Linked DNA regions of Homo sapiens. The protein of the gene in region 2 purifies or fractionates together with the protein of the main gene of each other region. This does not show direct contact. Each region holds a gene or a part of one and is shown on either strand. Other genes may lie near its edges.

Evidence for each region. Proteins that work in one complex are often made in the same cells at the same time.
Region 1: the proteins of POC1B (region 2) and HSBP1 purify together in Homo sapiens (affinity purification with mass spectrometry; 2 studies listed by BioGRID and IntAct, with this or other methods). This does not show direct contact.
Region 3: the proteins of POC1B (region 2) and TACC1 purify together in Homo sapiens (affinity purification with mass spectrometry; 2 studies listed by BioGRID and IntAct, with this or other methods). This does not show direct contact.

The regions. Positions count from the first base shown.
Region 1 is NC_000016.10:83,810,979-83,818,755, forward strand, and holds part of HSBP1 (heat shock factor-binding protein 1), read left to right. Parts: intron 1-442; 3' UTR 443-7,777. UniProt on the Homo sapiens protein: Negative regulator of the heat shock response. Negatively affects HSF1 DNA-binding activity. May have a role in the suppression of the activation of the stress response during the aging process.
Region 2 is NC_000012.12:89,523,048-89,531,154, forward strand, and holds the start of POC1B (POC1 centriolar protein homolog B), read right to left. Parts: upstream 2,849-8,107; coding exon 2,834-2,848; intron 2,750-2,833; exon of another isoform or gene 2,523-2,749; intron 2,384-2,522; exon of another isoform or gene 2,158-2,383; coding exon 2,073-2,157; intron 1,750-2,072; exon of another isoform or gene 1,503-1,749; coding exon of another isoform or gene 1-1,502. Other genes in the region: POC1B-DUSP6 readthrough, read right to left, coding at 2,073-2,157, 2,834-2,848; POC1B-GALNT4 protein, read right to left, coding at 1-1,393, 2,073-2,157, 2,834-2,848; GALNT4 (polypeptide N-acetylgalactosaminyltransferase 4), read right to left, coding at 1-1,502.
Region 3 is NC_000008.11:38,789,791-38,797,567, forward strand, and holds part of TACC1 (transforming acidic coiled-coil-containing protein 1), read left to right. Parts: intron 1-7,777. UniProt on the Homo sapiens protein: Involved in transcription regulation induced by nuclear receptors, including in T3 thyroid hormone and all-trans retinoic acid pathways. Might promote the nuclear localization of the receptors.

The DNA of each region.
Region 1 (7,777 bases), on a different chromosome or scaffold from region 2:
TTTATCTTCACAGTAGGTGGGGTTCATTCACTGTGTGAGTAAATCACATAACTGCTTTCTATGGGTTATGTCATCGTTATTCTTATCCAGAGATAATTTGGAAAAATGTCCTACCAGTCTCAGATGCTTCTGTGGGTCTCTTTTTATATTATGTGGCAATCAAAACTGCCATCAACTGACTGATTATCTTACCACAAGAATTTCAGGATGGTAGACTGGCTAGTGATGGGGGTCATTCAAAGAAAAGAGTGGGAGTAGGAAACTGACTCTGAAACTTTTAAAGATATTTCCAGTTAAATCTATTGCTAAAATATTGCCAGAAGAAAATAAGTTTAACTCAGTAGGAGAGTGGAAAGGGATTTGTAGTTGATAGGTCTATATGTCATTTTTACTTGTGCTCATATAATGAAAAACATGTTGATGATTTTTCCTTCTTCAACAGGTTGCTAATAATTTATACTGGAATCTGGCATTTTTCCAAGCCAAGAGAAGATCGAATGGCTTTTTGCAGCTAACTACTATGTGTAGACAGGTTTTATATTATAAAGTATGCATTCTTATCACCTAGTATATAGTTAGTTTGTAGAGTGATTTCCCCCCAGTTTCTTGAACATGGTATCTTCACATCTTGGACCTTGGTCAGTTGTGCTATTCATTATTAAACACTAAAACTTTGGCGGTTCTTGCATAACATTGTCAGATTTTTTAGTGTATTTCTGTGAAGTCATTTTTTTTCTTGTCATTCCTTTTGTAGTAGTTGCTGTTTGGATAAAAGTTGATGTGTGATTTTTTATTAAACAAATAGTAAACCCTTCAATTATAGTTAGTCTTGGTGAAGTAAGATGTTTGTAGACTTTAGAGTTCTTTAATTCTTGGCACAACGTGACTGTTGAGCTAACACCAAATAGTGTGTTGGCAATACTTTTCAAATGGCTGAAAACACCTAAAAATTGTTCATTCAGAAATATCTGTCACTGCTCTGTTGCCAAAACTCAGAATAGAACTTAGACGTATGTCTGAGTCCCTGAGATCACATGCTAAAGTCGATGAAAAGTAACCACTGCCACTGTCTTGTGTCAGAACTTTTACAGTACAGAAAATAACAGAATAGCCTTCTGTAATGAGGCGTTTGTTAGAGTTTTGCATGAGATTCTAATACTTCAGTAGGACCCTACCTACGTGGTTCATCTACAATGGTTACCATAAAAAATCTGGCAGGATTTTAAAACTCAATCAGTCTTTCCTTTGAGCTAGTGACTTGAAAAGAAAGAGAGAAGGAAAAGAGACCATATTAAGTCCATGCCAGTTGCTTGGCTAGAATATGATCAACGACTTGTAGTAGACTCAAGTTTTTAAAAAACACTATTTTACTTAAACTGTTTCTTATCTAAATTCTTGCAGAGTGTCAATGTTATCATTGATTATAGAAGACAGGGATAATACCTTTATCTCTGGCCACTCAAAAATGCAGTGCCAGGAGTGCTAAACCTAGAGGCCAATACTGATGACCTGGAAGGTGATCCATATGATTGTCACCACAAAGTGCTTTTACACAAAAACTTGAAAATTTGAAAAACATGATTTTTTTAAGTTTCTCATCTCACCAGTCTTGGTGTTTATATTGCAAATCTATCAAAGTAAGAAATAATTTGTGCTGTATACAAATTACATGGGGAACATAAAGGAGTGAGATCCTTCTGTGATAAAATGAATTCACCACTCTGGTTACCCAACTACAGAACCTCCTTTGATCAGGCCAGTAGGTTGTGATGCAGGCTGGAGCCCCCGAATGCCCCACACACACTGCAGCATTGACCAGACCATCCGAAACCTGCGTCCCTGGTGATGTTCTCAAGCCTCGGAAGTGGCAAATGGAAATGATATGGCCGGTTGCGGTTGTAGGAGAGTTGTGACTTAGGCAGGAGTCGACCTCCTCAAGTAATGGAACGATTTCAAAGGCAGGCTGCCCTGACCAAAAATATCTGCCATGAATAAAGGTGCCTGAAATCCTGCTATGAAGCTTCCTTTGTGTCAAAAATCTGTTTGGTTTTCAGATGGAAATGCAGAAATCACATTAGAGTATCAACTAAAACCTCTGGACGGATTAAGTACAAGTAGCCCAAGGCAAAGCAGGAGAGGGGGTGTTGGGGGAGGTTGCCTGCTGGAAGGGGAAGCTGAGGAGCGGGAGGAGGGCTTGCCAAGACTGGCATTGCAGGAGACTTGTCTCAGGTGTGTTCCCAGAACTCTTGCCCCTGGAGATGCTGCAGGAAGGAAGGGGTTATGGTCACTTGGGTTTAGACGACATTCTGTGAACCTCATGAAGAAATTAGCATATTAAAGACTCTGAAAGTAGAGCAGAGAACTCAGCTTTAACCTGCTCACCTGCTAGTTTTCGAGGTCTCGCTCTGTTGCCCAGGCTGGAGTGCAGTGGCACAGTCATAGCTCACTTGGAGCCTGAAGCTCCTGGGCTCAGGCAGTCCTCCTGCCTCAGCCTCCCAAGTAGCTAATATTACAGGTTCGTGCCACCGCACCTGGGTCTTGCTGTGTTGCCCAGGCTGGTCTAGAACTCCTAGGCTCAAGCAGTCCTGTCTCAGCCTCCCAAAGTGCTGGGATTACAGGCTGGAGCCACCATGCCTGTCCAAGGGTCTTTTTTATACTATATGAAGTATTCCTTCTCCAGCTATTCTTGTTCGTTTACCAGCCAGTGAAGATTCTCTTGAGGGCTGAACAATACAGATGAGTATGGGGGCCCTCGCACCAAGGAAAACAGCGTTACATTTAATTAAGTGCCCTGTCTCAAACCCCAAGGCCCCACAGCTTCTTCATTTGGCCCCTAGTTCATCCTGCTTTCCTTTGAGCCACAGGATTTTAAAATATTTCAATCTTATTTTCATATCAATTTTTTCTTTGTTTCACTACAAGTACAGTCATTGTTTAACCCTATCAGGACTAACACAATATTTCACGTAACTAAGAGTTAATTTGCCCTTGTGAGTCCTTGGAATTTAAGCCCCACACACACACACTTAGAGCACTGTTGCTATGGGAACATAGAGTCCTCCAAACAAAAGTGAACTTTTTCAACATGCTGTTTGTAAATGGAAGCCTTCCCAAGCAGACACTGTGTTCCTCTTTTATTTTGTATTTTGCACATTATATATTTTGATTAGATTAAAATGGAGGAATTTGCAGGATGTGTTGTCATATCTAGCCCTGAAAGTTAACTGGTTACAGTTACCAAATGTTCACAGCTAGCGCCATTGAAAGCATTGACTGTAAACCGCTGTACTGTGCTAAGCCTTTTGTTTGCACTGTTTGGCTTAATCCTCACAACAACACTGAGAGGTTTTCATTTGATGAGTCATATTTAAAGAAAAGGAACCCAAGACGGGGAGTCAGGGGCACAAGGTCACAGCTGGTAATGATGACCCTGGAATGTCCTCACAGCTGCACACCTGCACCGCTCACAAACACAGCTGACCGTCTCACAGCTGCACACCTGCACCGCTCACGAGCACAGCTGACCGTCTCACAGCTGCACACCTGCACTGCTCACGAACACAGCTGATCGTCTGCCTCTTCGTGTGAGCTGAGCTCCGAATCTCAGCTGTCCAGGCTGTCTGGAAATCATCAGCCCCACTGGCTGGATCTCAAAATTTACTTTCAAAAGGCTGATGGAGTGTTTTCAATTAAACATGACCTAAAATTAAGTAATAAACACACTGGATGTGAGTTTTTATTTGGAATTTAAACTATTCAGAGCTGGTAGAAAATGTGTGCTCCTGGATCAGTGCCTTTTTTCTCCTAAATCAGTTGAGAACAACAACAGAAACAAATGACATTCCTCAAACATTTGCCCAGAGCACAACCACGGGGAATATGAACCACAGGTTTTCACATTGGTTTTCCATGCCTATACCTGTCCTGTCTCCCACAAAAATTATTGCTTGAGGCCCAACCCGGGGGATAAAAAGACACCCCCCCGCCACTCCGTGACCTATTAGCTTACCATCCTATTGGATTTCACTGTTTTTTGTTTTGTGGTGTTTTTTTTTTATTGCAACGAAGACTTTTAAATGGACTCATGAAGAAGCCATCACCTGGAATCTTAATCTTGCATTAATTTTAAGTGTCTGATTTTAGCTGCAGCCACTTGAGAACTTTTCAATGAATGAAAATGAGGGAGGGGAGATGCAAGTCACTGCCCAAAAACAAAACCAGAGGAATTGTGATTGAACATTGCACTTATCAACCCTACAAATTAATATGGAAATAGGAAAAGGGTTTGTTTCAACAAGTCAGGATGACAGTATTTTAAAAAAGAAAAAAAGGCCAGCCTGGGCAATATACTGAGACTCCATCTCTACAAAAAAGTAGAAAAATTAGCCCAGAGTGTGGTGGCACACATCTGTGCTCCCAGCTACTCAGGAGGCTGAGGTGGGAGGATCATTTGAGCCCAGGAAGTCGAGGTTGCAGTGAGCTGTGATCGGACGACTCCACTCCAGCCGGGGTGACAGAGCAAGACCCTGTCTCAAAAAAAAAAAAAAAGGGCGGATCCTAACGCTTGGTCCTCACACCTGAGGCTCTCACTAAGAGGTGGCTGGAAGCTCCTCAGACCGCTGCCTAGGGTTCGAGTGATCCTGAAAGCTGTACAACATCAGCCTCTGTGGGATCCCTGAGAATGATGAAATGTAATATGTGGCTGTCTCATCAACAGAGCTTCATTTTACCAAAGCATATGTAGACACCACATACATGAACTACATACCTATCGTGTAGATGCTGCCCTGCCTCATAAGAACACTCTTGACTGTCCTGCTTCACAATAATAATCTTCGCAATAATGATCTAATAATGGTCAAATTCTGTGTCTCTACCGTAGAAAACAGAATTTGACCATTTAGTCACGTTGGTCTTGCAAAATGTCCACCTTCCAAAAGAGAACAGTATTGCTTCCCAATAATTAAGAATAGTCTGGATTCAGGATCCAGCAGCTTAGAAGCGTTTAGCTACCAATAGCAAAAATCAGCCCTTTTAACAATGGTGGGATGTATTATTTCACATGGCAAGAAGTCCCAAGGGAGGGCAGCTCTGGGGCGAGTAAATTCTGCACCTCAGTAAAACTAAGAGCAAGACCCGGCCGGGCGCAGTGGCTCATGCCTGTAATCCCAGCACTTTGGGAGGCCGAGGTGGGTGGATCACCTGAGGTCAGGAGTTCTAAACCAGCCTGGCCAACATGGCGAAACCCCCGTCTCTACTAAAAATACAAAAATTAGCCAGGCGTGGTGGTGGGCGCTTGTAATCCCAGTTGCTCGGGAGGCTGAGGGAGGAGGATCGCTTGAACTCAGGAGGTGGAAGTTGCAGTGAGCCGAGATCGTGCCACTGCACTCCAGCCTGGGTAACAGAGCGAGACTCCATCTCAAAAAATAAAAAACAAAAAAATAAATAAAAAATAAAAAGACCCAACCCCAGATTTGTTCCACCTGGGTGCATCCGGTCAGAGAATGCCTTTCTTCTTCCCTTTTGTCTCCTAAGAGTGAAGAAAATGTTTCTTTGAAGGTGTTTCCACCCCACTCCTGTGCCTAAAATGATCCTGGCAAACAGGACCCGCATGATAGGTTGAGCCATGTGGTTCTTGTTTTTTTGTTGTCACAACTCAGGTTGGGGGTGTTACTGGCATCAAGAGTGTAGAAACCAGGGATGCTGCGTCAACACCCTACCATGCACAGGACAACCCTCACCCCAAAGAGTGGCACAGCCCCAAGTGTCAACAGTGCTGAGGTTGAGGAATCCCAGCTTAACCCATTCATGAGACCACCTGAGCCTGGTGTAACGGTTCTGCTGATAGTTTCCGGACCCTCAGAGGTGGAGACATAAGAGAACAATACCAGGGTTCCATCAGAAAGGAAATCAGAATGGCTATCGGGTGGACAACCTACAGTGTTTGCTACAGACCTTCTAGATGTAACTTCTAGATTATAAACACTGGTAACACTGGAGATGGTTAAATCGGAATTAGCTGACTGTCAACCTTGGTGGCACATTAGAATCACCTGGGGAGCAGTTCAAAGGCCCAAAACTGGGCAGCACCACAGAACCCTCACATCAGAATCCCCATGGGTGGGCCCAGACAGCAGTGTTCATCTTAGACTCCAGTGTGCAGTCGAGGTCGAGAACTGCATTCAAGAAGGCCTGTCTACTGCGAACCGTCCGATGATGTAATTCACCAAGTTCCATGGGATTCCGCCACGCCCGTGTCAACCCAGCTGACACGTCCAACTTGGACAATCAGGGCTTTGACCCCCGTTACCTGGCATTCAATTCAATCCATGTGTCACGCATGCCCCAACAATTTGTGTCCCAACTGTTTGAATCAAAGGATTTCTGATTCCCTGATGGGTGATGACTCAGTAACCGGATTCAGCTTCAGATCTGCCTGACATTTTTCCTGCCTGTCCTGGGCCAGGTATGGCGCTAGCTGCTTTCACCTGTATCATCTCATTCACTGCTCAGAGGCTCTCGAAAGCTGTTGACATTATCAAAAAGTTTTCCAGCTGGAATTCATCTCCCTCTAATCAGCCTTCAAAACCTCCATTTGTAAACCATTGCTGTAGTTTTATTACCTCTTACCTTGGTCTTTACAAGTTGCTGTCAAAACCCAGTAAGTGTTTACAGAAAGAAACTTTACATATTAAATATCTTAAAGGTCTTTTATGCAGAATATGCAGTTAATTTTGATGGGCTATGGATAATCATCAGAAGAGCCATTTCTGGAAATGTAAATAATATGGCTGTTTCTTTTAACAGTGCATTCTCCTGAAAACATAAGACCATTTGACTGATTCTGCTCCAGAATCTTATTGAGGCAAAGGACTGGACCGAATTATTCATGGAACAGAAGCCTAGGACTGGTAAGTCCAGGAAATGCTGCAAAACAATGCCCTCAAAAGAAATCAGCCTTTCCCTTTGATAGGTATCTCTCCTGCAAGCCAGGCTCAGGTGCGCCTCAATTAGAACCTGTGTTCGCTGGGGCCATAATTAAGAATCTTAAAGGGAAAGAATGTTTTGAAAGCCATCTGTCAAAAGTACGCAGTCTTGCTTGTAGAATTTTAGAGGTTCATGGTTACCGTGGGTCGGCACTGGGTCTGTGAGCCCTCATCCCCAGGGCTCGGTTTCCTATCAGAATCCTTGTCTGGAAGGTTGATTATATCAGATGCGCATTTTGCCAGCATCCTCAGAAGGAGATGCGAGGAAGATTCTTTTCCTGGGCCACTCTCATTTTCTCAAACTTGGACAAGTCTTAACAATAATCTGTGACCCAACTTTGTCTTCCCCATGATGAAAAACAGACCCCATAGAAACTCTCTGGCACAAAAACTCTGGAATCACTGACCCCAGACATTGTTCCCTGCCATCCACTCTGCCAGACATTTCTTGGATTTATTCAAGCTGACTTGTATTCCAGAACAATTGTGGACAAGATTTGCTAGTAATGCTTCCAACAAGTTACCGTTTAGCAAGTTCAGAACTTGAAGAATCCCTTTTATCCTAACGCTGACTAATAAACTGGTGAGAACTGTTTGAAATACCCATAAGTCAATGGAGGTCGTAATTTGCTTTTATGCTGTATTAAACACCACTGAGATGTTAAGGTCTTTCTTGGGAACCACCGTGATGTTCTCTTCTGGACTCTTCGTAACCCCTTCAGCAGACGACCCTGTATCTGGTCTTGGTTCTGAAAGGTTTGCAGCGGCACCTAAGTCACTGAAGTTCTGGC
Region 2 (8,107 bases):
TCTGTCACAGAATTAAACCTTATTTCTTTGTTTGAAGTATATTCAAAGAATTGATTGCCTCCTTGACCATGGCATCCAAACAGTGAAAGGTTAGCACCTGTGGGGTTGTTGTCAGGAGAATTATAATCTAAACATTCAGACGAGATCCCTCTACTGCGAATAGCCCCATGCCAGCCTGGTCTATCCTCTGGAACATGTAAATTAGGAAAAACGTTTTTCAAATACCAGTCAAAGCTCTTGCATCTCAACCGCTCTCGTAGTAATTTTCTTTCAGAAATATCACCATAAGCTTCTTTTCTTGCTGGAGGGTTTCTATTGTAGAAGTGCTCTTTGTATTCATCCATCCAAACTTCTGCTGCCCGAGCAGTATTCTGTAGGAAATTGGGGCGAGCATATGGTGCCCGCTTGGGGAACACATGGCCCACGTGGGAACACGGGTGGATCTCCAATTTGCCACCACACTGCCACACCCTAAAAGACAGCTCAAGGTTTTCACCTCCCCACACTTCCATTCCTGTGTCATACGTTCCAAGGTACTGAAAATATTTCTTGCTGACAGCAAACAGTCCTCCAGCCATGGTAGGTGATCTGATGGGGTCAATTCTTGATATCCGCCTGTCCCTTTCCTGTTTGGGGACAGAATGCCACTGAAATGTTAAACGCCAGTCAAACCCACCAATCATGGGCTCCCCTATCTGCATATAGAATTCAAAAGTATTCCAATCAATTGTGTCTATAACAGGACACACAACTGCTGTTTCATCTCTCCCAATCCTTTCCAAAAGCGGTTCCAGCCAACCGGAATTACACTCACAGTGACAATCCAGGAAAGTGAGGACGTCCCCAGTGGCGAAAGTGGCCCCAATCAGACGGGCCCTAACCAGCCCCTCTCGCTTATTGGTCCTAATCAAGCGTACTCTATCAAGATTGCTGATGTAAGTTTCAAGTTGTGTCTTCAAATAAACTCTGTCACTCAAGTCATCCACCAAGATGATCTCTTTCAAAAGAACTGCAGGAGAAGTTTCTAAAACACTGTGAATGGTACGGAGCAAAGTCGACCAGGCTTCGTTATAGAAAGCAATGATAACAGAGGTGGTAGGAAGTGTCCTATAGTTGAACTTCTGGGACTTACACTCATACATTCTTTTATCCTCTATGTGTCGATGCAGGGAAATCCTGTCACTGAGGTAAATATTGATGGCGTATCTCTCAATGAGTTCTTCTTGCTGCTTCAGTTCATCCTCGTTGAGCTGGAGTTTGCTGGCTTTCCCCCACTCCCCAAGTGCACGGGAATCTGCAGGGGGCTTCTTATAAAGCGGTCGAGACAAATCCTCCGTATTTTTCTGGAGGTCTGAGAGCCTTCTTGACCCCAGCTCCCTGGCACGGCCGGCTCCTGCGGAGGCATGAAAAGTAGAGACCAAGAGCTCCACGAAGATATAGGCCACTGTTAAAAACGCCAGCAGCAGGCAGCTCTTGCCTGCCCAAGTCCACCTCACCGCCATCCGGATTCTCAGGGCTGAGGCGCAGACGCGGCCACCAAGCCACCACGCAGGGGAAGGGCGGCGGAACCCACAGCTCGAGCTCAGGTACTTCCCAGCAGGTTCTTCCTTTCATGCAGGCGCTAGGCTCCTTTCCAGCCACCCAGGCTTTCCAGGGGTCACCTGAGCCCTCTCGGTCCTCGGCCTCCGGCACAGCCCAACTCCTCTCTCCCTACTTCCTCCTGCTCGGCTCACAACTTTTCACAAACTCTCCAGCCAACACCCCACCCTCCCCGGGCCGAGGAGAAACCCCTCCCCTTCCCACTCACTCCTCCTGGTGGTTAGTTTGCGAAAGTCGTCCGCCAGGCCCAGACCGCTGGATAGGAGGCTCTTGGCCGGGCCGGGGGCTGGGGGCCGGGATGGCAGAGGGGGCCCTAGCTGCGCCCCGCCGCGCTGGGCCCTCGTCTCCGGGTGCTCTCAACCCTCATACAGGCCCTTAGCCGTTCTCCTAGGGACCCTGCCCGGACAGGAGGAAAGGTTTCCGGCCCATGGAGTTTAGTCTCATTACAAAAGCAAAACAAGAATAAGACTTACCAAGTTGCTTGCCGTTGGGGCTGAGGTCCAAGGAGGTGATCGCAGCTTTGTGGCCTTTGAAATAACGCTCCAGAACGGGGTCCTCCTGGAAAGGAAAGTTGTCAAGTTTTGAAAGCCGCCGCAGACCTCGAATTCTGGCGGCTGGGATCCACGCTGCCACTTCCCCGGAGTCCGGCTTGGGAATGGCCACCCAGGCGGCGGCTTGGCTGGGCGGCGGGGCCGGGCAGCAGCCCACCCACGGGCGCGGCGCCCAGTCCTGCTACAGGGAGACGCCGGCGCCAGCTCTCCCCGCAGAGCCCGCAAAACGCTCTGTTCGCGCTTCCCAGAGTCCAGCGCATCGCAGGAACCGCGGCCCCTTTGAAATGCACGTTCCCGGGCCCCGCCCGCTGGCCCAAGGCAGGCAGGTGCGAGGATGCGCCTCGGCTTTGGTACTTTTTTTTTTTTTAATACTTCCTAGGTGATTCTGACGCAGGCGCTCCACGGAAACCCTCCGAGAATTCTGGGGGCCGTGGGGCCGCCCAGCTCAGTCCGGAGCTCCGGAACTCGGGGAAGAGCGTCCGGGAGCCGGGTCTGGGTTCCGCACTCCGTCCGCCCCGATGGCAGAGAGTGAGATACGGACGCCCCGGGACGAGGGGCTCAGGACCCGGCTACGGACACCTGCCTCCATCTCCCTCCAGGTGCGGCTTCGGCCCGGACCTGGCCCCGCAGCCCGCGGGACAGGCTCCAGGGAGGGACCCCCCCCACCTCCAACCCGTCCTTACCGTGGCTGAGGCCATCGGGGGAGTGGTCGGCCCAAGGCTCCTGTGGGTGGGGGAACCCGGAGAGGGGAGGGGAGAGGATGGGGAAGGAGAGGGGACCGTGCGGCTCCCGGAACCGTCTGCCCAGAGCGGCAGCGCCTCCCGGTCACTACAACAACGGCGGCCCAGTCAAACCCCGCGCTCCAGGCATGGCCAGCCGAGCCCCGAGACACCGCCAGCCCTGTAAAGAGAGGACGGGAGGTATGCGCCGGGTCAGCTGTGGCCACACACCAAGCCATGTTAACTAACACTCGCGTTCTCCCTGGTTTGATGTCAGGAAGTGGGGTAGTAACCAGGACTGGAATAAGAGCGATGAATGGAAGGGCGTTGTGAGCCTGTGATCGATGCGATCAGAGTTCTATTACGTTTTAAAGAGACAGCACCCGTGACGTTTAAGGTGATCCCCTACCGCTTATTTTGTTGACGTAAAGCTTTGACATGAAGAGGGGCAGCTTGCTAGTTATTAATATACTAAAAGGAACTAAATCCCCTGAGGGCAGATTTGAATTTATTTAACCACTGTTTTCCACACAGTGCCCTGCAGGATATTGATATAGTTGCTGGATGTGCGTGATGAATGAATGAGTGAATGAATGAATAAATGTTGTGCATGCACTTAATAATTTTCTGCGATATGTTTCCATTCTCATCTGCTTATTTGCGTATACCTTAGAGCACTAAACTTACACAGCTGGATACTTAAAGTCTTTAGGAAGACTTGGAAACATGGTTTTTTTTGTTTGTTTTTTGTGAGACCACGTTTCTACAGCAGGCTTTGTTACACATAGTATCATTTGTGCTTCAGCCAAACAATGAAGTTGGTAGAATTACAAAATGTTTTCAATGTTTCCAAGTTATAAACTTGATTCCTAGATATTGGTCTTAGAGGTCACACAGAGACAGTTCTTCTAATTCCAAGTCCATATCCTTTTTTTTTTTTTAACCCTGCCTCAAAGCGTGATGTTCTGAGCTGAAAATTACATATAGTGTAAAGATCCTTAGCAACATCAAAGGGCATGATAGAACACAGCTGGTAAGACATGTGTTTTATGCAAATGAAAGGTATGCTACACACCTTAATTACAGATTCCCTAGTTGTCTAGTGATTGAGTTTAATTTTATTGAATATGGTACTTAACAACTAAACAGGTAGGCTTTAGATTACAGTATTAGTTAATTTAAGTATACACTTGTTAAATATCTGTTGTATGTTTGGCCTTGAGGGACACAATGATGACTAAGATATTTCCCCTACCTTCAAGAACTCAGCAATCTAGGGTTGGTGAGTCTCATGCTTTAGCATTTGTAATGTTGATTTGGGGGCTCCATTTCCAGAGATGCTGAATCAACATATACAAGGTGGGATCCAGGGCCCTTCTGATGTAACAAGCTCCATAGATGATTACTATGGGAGTCTCAGCTGTCTATGTTGAGAAACACTGCATTAGTCTAGGAGATGATATGTTAAGAGTGTTGATATCAGCAACTTGTCAGCAAACTGTTGCAGGACTCTTAGTTTTGCTACATATTACCAGTTTAGGCTTGATTTATTTTAAAAGCCTGCCATGTTTAAAACTAATGCTGGATACTGGTGGGAATGTAAAATGATGTAGCTCTGTGAAAAAGTTTGTCAGTTCCTAAAAAGTTAAACATACAATTACCTTATAATCCAGCAATTTCACTGCTAGGTATATCCCATAAGTATTGAAAGCAGAGACTCCAACAGATGCCAGTGTTCAAAGCAAGCATTATTTACAATAGCCAAAAAGTGGATACAATCCTAGTATCCAACAGATGAATGGATAAACAAAATGTATGTGATATATACATATAAGGAAATATTATCCTGCCATAAAAAGAAATGAAATTGTGATACAAGCTATAACATGGATGAACCTTGAAAACATTTTGCTAAGTGAATAAGCCAAACACAAATGAGCATATATTGTATGATTCCATTCATATGAGGTACCTAGAATAGGTGAATTCATAAGGACAGAAAGTAGAATAGAGGTTACTAGGGCTGGGGGTAAGGGAGACTGGGGAGTTACTGTTTAATGGGTGCAGAGTTTCTGTTTGGGATGATGAAGTTCTGGAAATAGATAGTGGTGATGTTTGCACAACATTGTGAATGTACTTAATGCCAGTGAATTGTACACCTAAAAAATGGGTAAAATGGTAAATTTCATTACAGGTATTTCACCCCAATAATAAAATAATAATGCCAGAAGCTGAAGAGTAATCAGGACCTCAGGATTACTCATAGGTATGTTACGTCTAATATTGGGCACAGGAGAAGCAGAAAAGGGAAGAAGTTGGAGATTTAGAAACTAGCTCACAAGAAGAAAAAATATAGATTTTTATTTAAGTGTTTTAGTAAAAGTTTAGCTTTTACTTTTTTTCTCAATTATCAAGAAACACATGTTTTAAATTTAAAAGATGGGAGGGAAACTACATATTAATCCTATTACCTAAAGTTGATCTTAAAAAATTTGTCACCTACTGATATGGTTTGGATTTGTGTCCCCACCCAACTGTCATGTAGAATTGTAATCCCCAGTGTTGGAGGAGGGGGCTGGTGGGAGGTGATTGGATCATGGGGGTGGATTTCTCCCTTGCTGTTCTGAGTGAGTTATCACGAGATCTGGTTGTTTAAAAGTGTGTAGCACTTCCCCCTTTGCTCTCTTCCTCCTGCTCCAGCCATGGAGCAGCCATGCTCTCTTCCCCTTTGCCTTCCACCATGTTTGTAAGTTTCCTGTGGCCTCCCCAGCCATACTTCCTGTACAGCCTGCAGAACCATGAGCCAATTAAACCCGCTTTTTTTGTAAATTACCCAGTCGCAGGTAGTTCTTCATAGCAATGTGAGAACGGACTAATATACCTACCTATGTTTTCACTACATGCCAGGACTTTTCTAAGTACCTTACAAATTTTGACATTTAGTGATCATAACGATCTTATTAGAGATGTGCTATTATTACCATTTCCGTTTTATAGATGAGTAAATTGATATGCAAAGACATTAAGTTACTTGCCCAAGGCACACTGCTAACTAGGAAGTGGCAGAGTTGAGATTTTTAGACACTCGCAGTCTGCCTCCAGAATCCACTCTCTCTTTTTTTTTTTTTTTTTTGAGACGGAGTCTCACTCTGTCGCCCAGACTGGAATGCAGTGGCGCGATCTCGGCTCACTGCAAGCTGCTCCGCCTCCCAGGTTCACGCCATTCCCCTGCCTCAGCCTCCCGAGCAGCTGGGACTACAGGCGCCCGCCACCAAGCCCGGCTAATTTTTTTTGTATTTTTTTTTTAATAGAGACTGGTTTTCACCGTGTTAGCCAGGATGGTCTCAATATCCTAACCTCGTGATCCGCCTGTCTCGGCCTCCCAAAGTGCTGGGATTACAGGTGTGAGCCACCTCACCTGGCCCAGAATCCACTCTCTTAATCACTGTCATGACTTTTGTGTGATTGCAAGTGTTATGTAAATGTATAAAACATTGCATTCTTGCCAAGGTTTATAATAATAAGTTTTACAAAATGAAAGTAATATCTCCTTTATTTTCATTCCACTGTCCTCATTTATTACTCTAAACTGCCCTTCCCATTGTTCTTTTCCATAGTATTTGATTTTGTTCTTTTCGGCTTTTCTTCACCTTTGCAAATAGCAAAAGCTCAGAGGTAGACAATTGGAAATGTGGTCAAAGTTGGGGAAGTTTTTTCTAACCTCAAGCCTAATTCCACTTGCTACAATGATTATTTAGACCTCTCTGGACTGCAACCTAATCATTTATGTGGGTGGGAGCCACAAGCAGGATCAGTATTTAAAAACCTACAAGGTTTTACTGGAGGCCGGGTACTAGCTAGGACAAACTGACCTCTAATTAGCCCTTCTTATACAGTTCCCCCTAAAACAGAAATTGAATGTACTTACTTGAGCATTATAAAGAGTTATTTTTATTTTAGCACTGGTTCTTCCTTGGCCTTCAAATTTGGAAATTCAGCATAGTACAAAAGTGCCATCTACTGTTCACCTTACTATATAGCACTTGGAGTGAACATATTTTGAGCCTGTTTACAGGCAATGGAACTCCCTTGTTGATACACTTCCTCCAAAGTATAGGAGAGCACATGGAAAAGTACAAGATGGGTTTGAATCAATAATGAATTACATTTTTGAAAACTGCATGATTCATTTAAGTTAACATTCAGTCTCCAAGTCCTATCAACTACCTCCTCACCATATATATATATATAATATATATGATGGGCTGCCCAGGCTGGCCTTGAACTCCTGAGTTCAAGTGATCCACCTGCAGCAGCCTCCCAGGTAGCTGGGATTACAAGCATGCTCCTCATCATATATTTTATCTTCCTATCTTTCTGTCTAATGGCTCCTGTCACTCCACAGACCCTGCCTTCTGCCTCCTAGAATATTTTAGTAACCACCAACTTGCTTTCTGACTTCAAAACTTCTCCCCTCCACCTGTCCACCCTGCATTTACCAACAAATAACATAAGATTCACCAGGGTATCTTGCTAAAAGTAAATGTTTTTAGGCCTCACCCCAGAGGTTTTGATTTAGAAGGTCTAGTGTGAATACTAGAAATCTGTTTTCAAACAAGCTTTCTAGGTGATTATAATATGCATCAACATTTGGGAACCACTGGCATATCATGCCATAGATCTTTAAAATGCACTTTAAGTTCACTTTTAAATGCCTCAAACCAAGTCCTATTTTATATCTAACCACTCATCTCCCCTGGGCCAATCCTTAAGCCATTGCAGTTAACCACACACACCCACCCTTTGGAGCCTTTGCTAGAGCGGTTTCTGTACTCATGAATGCCTGTGCTACTCTCTTGCTCCAACTTCTACACAAAGAAACATACCTCAGGACTTGGGAAGATATGTTCATGTAAAATCATCTTTCTCTGAACCTATTCCTCCTTATAAAAATAAAACATTATTTTTCCTTTGGGTCCTGATGGTATGAAACTTAGAGTTCTTTTTAGCACTATTTTATGTTGCTGCCTTTACATCTACATCATGTTTATGTGTCTATCAGCACTTAACTGTAGTGAAAGGTCAGTAAAGATAAGAACTGTGTTCTACTCATTTTAGTATCACTCTACAGGCACCACAATCCCTGACACATAGTAGGGGCATAATAAACATTTTCTGCATTGATTGAAAGATGACAGTGTGGCTGGCCAGCTCTATAGTTACTGAAAAAGTCTACAA
Region 3 (7,777 bases), on a different chromosome or scaffold from region 2:
CCGTAAGGTGGAGGGTTCATGGTACAGTTTGAGGACCAGCCAGGAGGTCAGTGTGGACTGACTACTCAGAGAGCAGGAGGAGCTGAAGTCAGCGTGGTCAGAGGAGGTCCAGATGCTGCTGCAGTGAGGATTTGGTTTTCAGTAAGGTGGAAAGCCACTGGAGGGCATATGCATTTCCAAGGGCTGCCATAACAGAGTAACTTAGCGGCTTACAATAACAGAAATTATTCTCTCACAGTCCTGGATAATTGAAATCAGAACCAGAAGTCTCAAGTCAAGGTGTTGGCAGGGCCTTGCTCTTCTGAAGGCTCCAGGAAGTCTGTCCTTGCCTCTTCTAGCCTCTGCTGGGTGTCTGCAATCCTTTGTGTTCTTTGGCTTGTGGCAGCAGAACTCCAGTCTCTGTCTCAACACATGGCCATCTTCTCCCTATGTATCTGTCTTACCGTGCCCTTCCTGTGAGGACACCAGTCGTTGAAGTTAGGGCCCACCCTAATCCAGTTTGACCTCATCTTAACTTGGTAACATCTTCAGAGATACTATTTCTAGATAAGGTCACATTCATAGGTACTAGGAGTTGGGACTTTAACATATCATTTTGAGAGACATAATTCAGCCCACAACAGAGAGCTTTGAACAGAGGGATTGTGATTCAGCTTCTTTTGTAAAAGGCTCCCTGGGCTGCTGTGTGGAGAAGGGACTCTAGGATGGAAGTCCTTTTTATGTGGTTTCTCTGTTCCAGTATCTGGCACTGTCACCCTGAAGTGGCAGCGCCAGCTTTCAGTTATCTAGCTACCTAAACTTTGTGCTGATTGTGACTTTCTCCTCTCCCTAATAAGTATTTTTATTGCTTAGCAACTTCTTCGTAGGTTGCCTAGGGAAGTCAAGTTACTCTGGTAATAGACTGCATGATGGAGCTGGAATTATTGGTAAAATGACATCAGCAAAAAGCTGATTTGGTTTTGCTTTAAATTGATAGCTCCATGCTGTGCTTACCCAGCTGAGAATTCAGCAATACCCTCAACTTGCCCTAGGCTGCATTTTGCCATTGTTCTAGGCAGGGACAACATGGGAATAGGCAAGCTTATATACTGGAGAATTTGTGTGCGACGCATAGCTGTGTAGCACTCTCAGTGATGAAGATAACACTTATTCCTCATAGCTTCCCTTTTCTTCCGTAAAGATTGGCAGATCAGAAGGGAGATTTTGAAGCTTGAAAGAACTATTTGGTGGCCTTTCCATCAAATTTAAATAAAGCTCATAAGACACATGTTAAGGAGCTGTTTGAAAGCCTTTTTGAATTGCCATCAGCTTGGGCGGCCCTTCCTCATCGTTTTGTCAGCTGCTAGACTGATTCATCCCGCCAGATTCTTTGCCAATTGAATAGAGGCCTGGATGACCTAGGCCCCCAAAACCACAGAGACCCAATTGTTTGGTCCTTCCTGTACCAGTGACTCTCACATTTTTTTCATTCTCTCTAAAAGGAAAACTTTTAAATGTTTATGGATCATGAAGGCTCTATGGGGTAGTTCATGAATGCAGACTGTAATTGTAGGGGTAGAGGAGTGTCCAGTCCAGGAAACAACCCTGCATATTATGAAGGCTTTCAGTTTAGGGTCTTTAAACAATAGGATGATTGCTCATCAACCTGGTCGTACCCTGACTTCCAGGGTCCTTGGGTGCAACATCCGGAGCTAGTCCAGAGTACCGCCAATGGCCTTGTCACACATACACAGCAAATGTGCAAAGACAGCCAGAGCACAGGTCTGCCTGGAGAGGATTTCAGTGGGCAGAAAGCCCTTCAGAGTCATTTCATATTGAAGTTTAATTTCTGGGACTGGATAAGTTCCCTTTCTCCCAAAATTATTGATTGTTTTGTTCCTGGTAAAGATAGTCTTTCATACTTTTGTGGTTCCAAGACATGGTTGGACCGCAGTTATAAATTATATAAGACTAAATCATTCTGGAAGAATGATTTACGAGGAGTTAGTCAGGAGTTGGAGTTGAAATATGTAAACATTCTGGCTTCCTGGTACATAATGGCCCTCAAACGTGTGGGCTACATTTACCATACCCATGGCTCCTGTGCTGACTTCTGTATAGTTCTTTGAACTCAGGGAAACATCTAAGACTATTTTGAAATGACTTTTCTTATACTGGAACTGCTTTAGGAACTTGCAGTATCTAAACTCTATAATGACTCTTCCTAAGAGTTGTATGCCAGGAGTTAAGTGGCGGATAAGGTTGTAGATTTTTTTTGAAGCCACATATAGAAGCAGGTTTTAGGCTTACTGGTAAAATAAAACTCTAGCTAAAGATATTTCCTGGAAATAACCAGACTGGTAGCTGTAAAGCTTGGGCTGGTCTGTATTTGCTATCTGTCTGTTTTCTCCCACTAAAGTTGTTTAATGCTGCTGCTGTTGTGGTGGTCTTTCTCTTTGCTGGGAAATATATTGGTGAAGAAACATCCTCTAGGAATGGACTTTTGAGGAGGTACAATCTCAAGTTCATCCTCTGTTTTGTTTTGCTTTGAGACAGGATCTATGTCTAGACTGGAGTGCAGTAGTATGATCATAGCTTACTGCAGCCTCCAACTCCTGGGCTCAGATGATCCTCCTGCCTCAGCCTCCTGAGTAGCTGGGACTATAGGCACACACTACCATGCCTGGCTAATTTTTTGTTTTGTTTTGTTTTTTGAGATAGAGTCTCGCTCTGTTGCCCTGGCTGAAATGCAGTGGTGCGATCTCGGCTCACTGCAAGCTCCGCCTCCTGGGTTCACGCCATTCTTCTGCCTCAGCCTCCCAAGTAGCTAGGACCACAGGCGCCCACCACTACGCCCAGCTAATTTTTTGTATTTTTAGTAGAGACGGGGTTTCACCGTGTTAGCCAGGATGGTCTCGATCTCCTGACCTCGTGATCCGCCCGCCTTGGCCTCCCAAAGTGCTGGGATTACAGGCGTGAGCCACCACGCCTGGCCAGTTTTTTTATTTTTTGTAGAGATAGGGTCTTGCTATGTTGCCTAGGCTGATCTCGAACTCCTGGCCTAAAGGGATTCTCCTGCCTCACCCTCCCAAAGTCCTGGGATTACAGGCGTGAGCTACCATGCCTGGCTTTTGTGTTTGCATGTGTGTTTATGGAGGACTTAGGGGTTGTGGCTTTGTGTAGCTGTTTCAGTCACAAAAACTGCAGTGGGTGCCCTCTGCCCCTTGAGTTTCTCCTTCACCAACATAGCCCCCCTTCCCCAAACACACACACCTTTATCTACAGATTGTTACCTCTCTCTGAGAAAGAGAATCTTAATTAGTGTAGAAGCTCTCACATCACCCTTGGAACAACTCGTTAAACCTCTCCAGTTTGATGTGTTAATTAAATGCCTAGGTATTTCAAACACAAACTGTAGTTCTCTGGACTTTTCCCCAGAATAGAAGAAAAGAGATAAATGGGATCTGTGCACAGATATTTACTGCCTCAGGCCTGTGAGGGAATGCCAAGTTGTTTGTTGACACAATTTTGGTAGTCTCGATCAGAATCAGCAAACTGTGACTCATAGACCAAGCCCTGCCTGTCCTGTTTTTTTGCATGGCCCTGAACAGAAGAATGAGTTTTACATTTTTTGATGGTTTAATGGTGATGTGTGAAAATAATGTGAAATCCAAATTTCAGGGCCCATCAATGGTCACACGATTATGTGAATTTACTAAAAACCATTGCATCATATATTTTAAAGGGTGGACTGTATGGTTTGTGAATTATATCTCAATAAAGTAGTTCTTAAAAAAAAACAAAACAAAATTTCAGGGCCCATCAAGTTATATATATATGAAATATATATTTTGGTAGATATGGGGTCTTGCTATGTTGCCCAGGCTGATCTTGAGCTCCAGGGCTCAAGTAAGTGATCCTCCCACCTCAGCCTCCCAAAATGCTGGGATTTCAGGTTTGAACCACCACTGTCATCCCCATAAATAAAGTTATTGGAATACAGCCATACTCATTCATTCATGTATTGTCTATGGCTGCTTTTGCTCTACAATAGCTGGGTTGAGTACTTGGAACAGAGACCAAATGTCTGGCAAAAGTCTAACATATTTACTATCTTGTACAGAAAAAAAATGTCAACCTACATCTATACTTATTACAATTTCAGTAAAAATACAGAGTTTAAGTAATTTGGGAAAATGGCTTTAAGAATGAAAAGGTGCAAGGTTATACCTGCTGAACAAATGAACTGTGGGCGTGAGGTGCCATTAGTCTAGGCCTGCATGTTCAGGGAAGGCCCAGGGGAGAGCCTGATGTGGCCTGGCTATTTGTCATATTTGCAAAGGGGAAGTGATGTAATTGGTCTGCAATGAACTTGATTTTCAATTGACTCAAAGATCTAAGGAGGAATAAAAATTATTTAAAAAGGAAATTAGGGAAGAATGGGGAGAATATTGGAATCATTTAATAGAAGTACAAACACATAGACTTTTAACTTTTGCCCATTAAATTTTTTTTAACATTTTATTTTCTTAAATTTTTTTTAAAAAAATAGTGATGGGGTTTCACTGTGTTGCCCAGGCTGGTCTCGAACTCCTGGGCTCAAGTGATCCTCCCACCTTGGCCTCCCAAAGTGTTGGGGTTACAGGCATGAGCCAGCCTCACCCAACCCATTAAATGTCTTTAATGTAACTTCGGGTGTATGAGAATTTGTAAGTTGACTGTGCAGATCTCTTAAAAGGTTGATATGGTGTATTTTTAGAATGTTTTAGACTGCACGTGTGTGTGTGTTTGTTTGTGTGTGTGTGTGTGTGCGTGCTATAGAAAACACAGCATGGAAACCTTGTTAAAATCAGAGGCTTTGATTTTTTATTCTAAAGCTTTGAGTTATATGTTTAATCAGATACTATGTGAAAAATTTTCATTAGGTACATATTGAAGTGTTCCATTCAAGTCTACAAGTATATCCTCCTAAGGATTTAGTTTAACATCCTTTCCCTGCTCCAACAAGGGAATGCTTTATTAGAGTTTCCTAGAAATAATGGGACTAATTAGGACCTTTCATATTACCTAGTCCAGCAGTCCAACCCATGTGGCTCCTTCAACAGCATCGCAGCCTAATGCTTTTAATTTAATTTTAAATTTTTAATGTTTTGCTGTGATTGCCTCTTCCACAGTTTGATTTTTTTGTACTGTATAATTCCATGTTAAGGTATTTAAAGCTTGAAAATCTTAGCATGATATAGCTACTTTGTTTTTTCATGTATTTTTAGCTCTGAAGTTGGAGATTCCAACCAGCTAATAAATGAGATCAGAGTCATGTGTTTTTTTGTTGTTGTTGCTCTATCACAATGTAAATGTGCCCCTAGGAAGCACCTGCTTCTATATGGTGCCTTACCCAAGGGAGTGTCTTCCTGGGGAAAAAAGTGTAGTTTTTCCAGCAGAAACTTGTGAGAGTGCAGAACCACAGAGGAGCAACAGTGTCTGAATAAAAAATTCCAGGGCAGGGAAGCAAAGTCTACCTGCAGAAAGGAAAGATTTTAGTAACTATCAAATCACAATTTTTCTTTTAAGATGAGTGACAAAATCAAGACCTTGCACTCCCCCATTTTGGGCTTACCCAAGCATCGAATAAAGCAGTAGAACTTACTTTGGTACTTGCGGGTGGCAGAGACACTTTCTACCTGTGTATGTGTTTTGGGAGCCGGCAGTCCTTCTAAAATTATATTGCTGCCATGTAATGTCCCACCTACAAAATGGATGTGGCCTAAAGCCATTTAAACATTTAAATGAAAGAGCAGTTGCAGTGTCTTTTTCAGGTTACCAGTTATACTGCCCAGAGGAAATCTTGGAGGGTATAAACCATTTTGTCACACTCTCCTAAATCCAGAGTAGCGATGGGAGATAATGGTTTATCCACCCAAAACAACCCTCTCAGTGGAGATTTCATAACCAAGGTTGCTAAATTGCCTGGTGACTATTAAATCTGGGCTTAGAAAGGCTTTGCTACTTGTGAGTTCAAGATCTCACCCTCACCTTTGCATGTACATGACCTAATTTTATGAGTTCAAACAAACATGATTAGATCCCCAGGGTTTAGATTGATGATGGCCAGACTCACAAGGGAATAATAATAATGGCATGGAGTATTTTATTAATTCACAAATGAAAAATGTATCTTGACAGTTTGGCAGATGCAGATACTCTCCTAGCCAGTCGAGGACCCTCTTTCTTATATCATAGCTGGAAATATGACAATAAATGATTGATCTCCAGCTTTCCCATTACAATATTCCCACCTAGCAGATCACCAGCTATCTGTTTCAGCCGTATTTATTTATTAGATGTGTTGGGAACAAGTAATCTTTGTTTGCAGCATCTTGTTTGATTTTTATGACCATGATTCTGCGAGATAGGACACAAGTGATTTCCATTTCACAGATTGGGAAATTGAGGCCAGAGCCTTTACTGCTAGTAGTGGACCTGGGTTTTGAATTCAGCTTTTAAGATTGCAGATCCAGAGCTCTTTGGAACATATTATACAGCTTTTCTCTCCAGGAAATTTGTGAATCCCTCTCTGTTGTTCACTATCTGAAGAGAAGACATATCAGAGGAAATAAAGGGTCTTAAAATGTTGCCAGAGCAGGGTGTGTGATGGGGGAAAGCATCGTCTTAAGTATCCTGTCATGTGATAGTAGTTTAAAAAATCAAAAAATACATCTTCCACATGTGTGAACTTGGCACATATTATTCTGAAGTATGAAATGTATTTTAGGAAGTTGAAACATCAGAAGTTTGGAAGCTTGCAGCATGATTTAGATATAAATTAATAGTCAAGCAAAAATCATCACTGGATAAGTGCAGTGGGATTGAAAACATTTTGCTTCCTCAATGCCTAGCTTCAGCTCATCAGTGAAAAATAAAGAAGGAGTAGACAAATTCAGTACTAGCCTTTGCATTCTGTCTCCACCTGAGTCATGCATGGTTGAGAAGAGGCAGGTGTGTGGAGGTGTGTGCGGCTGCCAGGGGCTCTGCGCCTGTTTTATGGTAGATAGAGGAGTTTTTAAGAGGCCTTTGTTGGTGATCTCTGGCTGCATAACAAATTACTCCAAAACTGAAAACAACGAACATCTCACATAGTCTTTGTAGTTGGGAAATTTGGGAGCTGGGTGGTGTGGCTCAGGTCACTTTTGAGAATGCTGTCAAGATGTCGGCTGGGACTGCAGTTGTTTAAAGACTTGACTGAGGCTCAAGAATCCTCTCCTAAGGCGGCTTACTCATTTGCCTGGGCTGTGAGTGCTGGCTGTTGGTGGGAGGCTGCAGTCCTCACCATGTGGACCACTGCTGGGTTGCTTGAGTATCCTCACAGCATGGCAGCTGGCTGCCCCAGAGTGAGTGATCCAAGAGCAAGCAAGATAGAAACTGCAGAGTCTTCTGTGACTTAGCCTCAAAAGTCACACTTATTTCCACAGTATCCTTTTGGTTACACAGGTCAGTCCAAGGGCATGTGTACCAGGAGGTGAGACATATAGGGGCCGTCTTGGAGGCTGGCTACCACAAAGCCCTTTTCCACTTTTTAAAAAACTTGCATGAAAGGATATACAAGGGTATACATTCTTAGATGGCAAAGCTTTTCCCATTGCTTTCTTCCTTTGGCGTCTCTTCACTATGCCCTTCCTAACCCCACTCCTTCTTGCTGCCCTCTTTCTTAAACAGGAGCAGAACTGGCTGAAGAAATTATATAGCCGCCTATTGGCTTGTGGTCCTGCCATGGATGTGTCTCATGCACCCAGCATGCTGG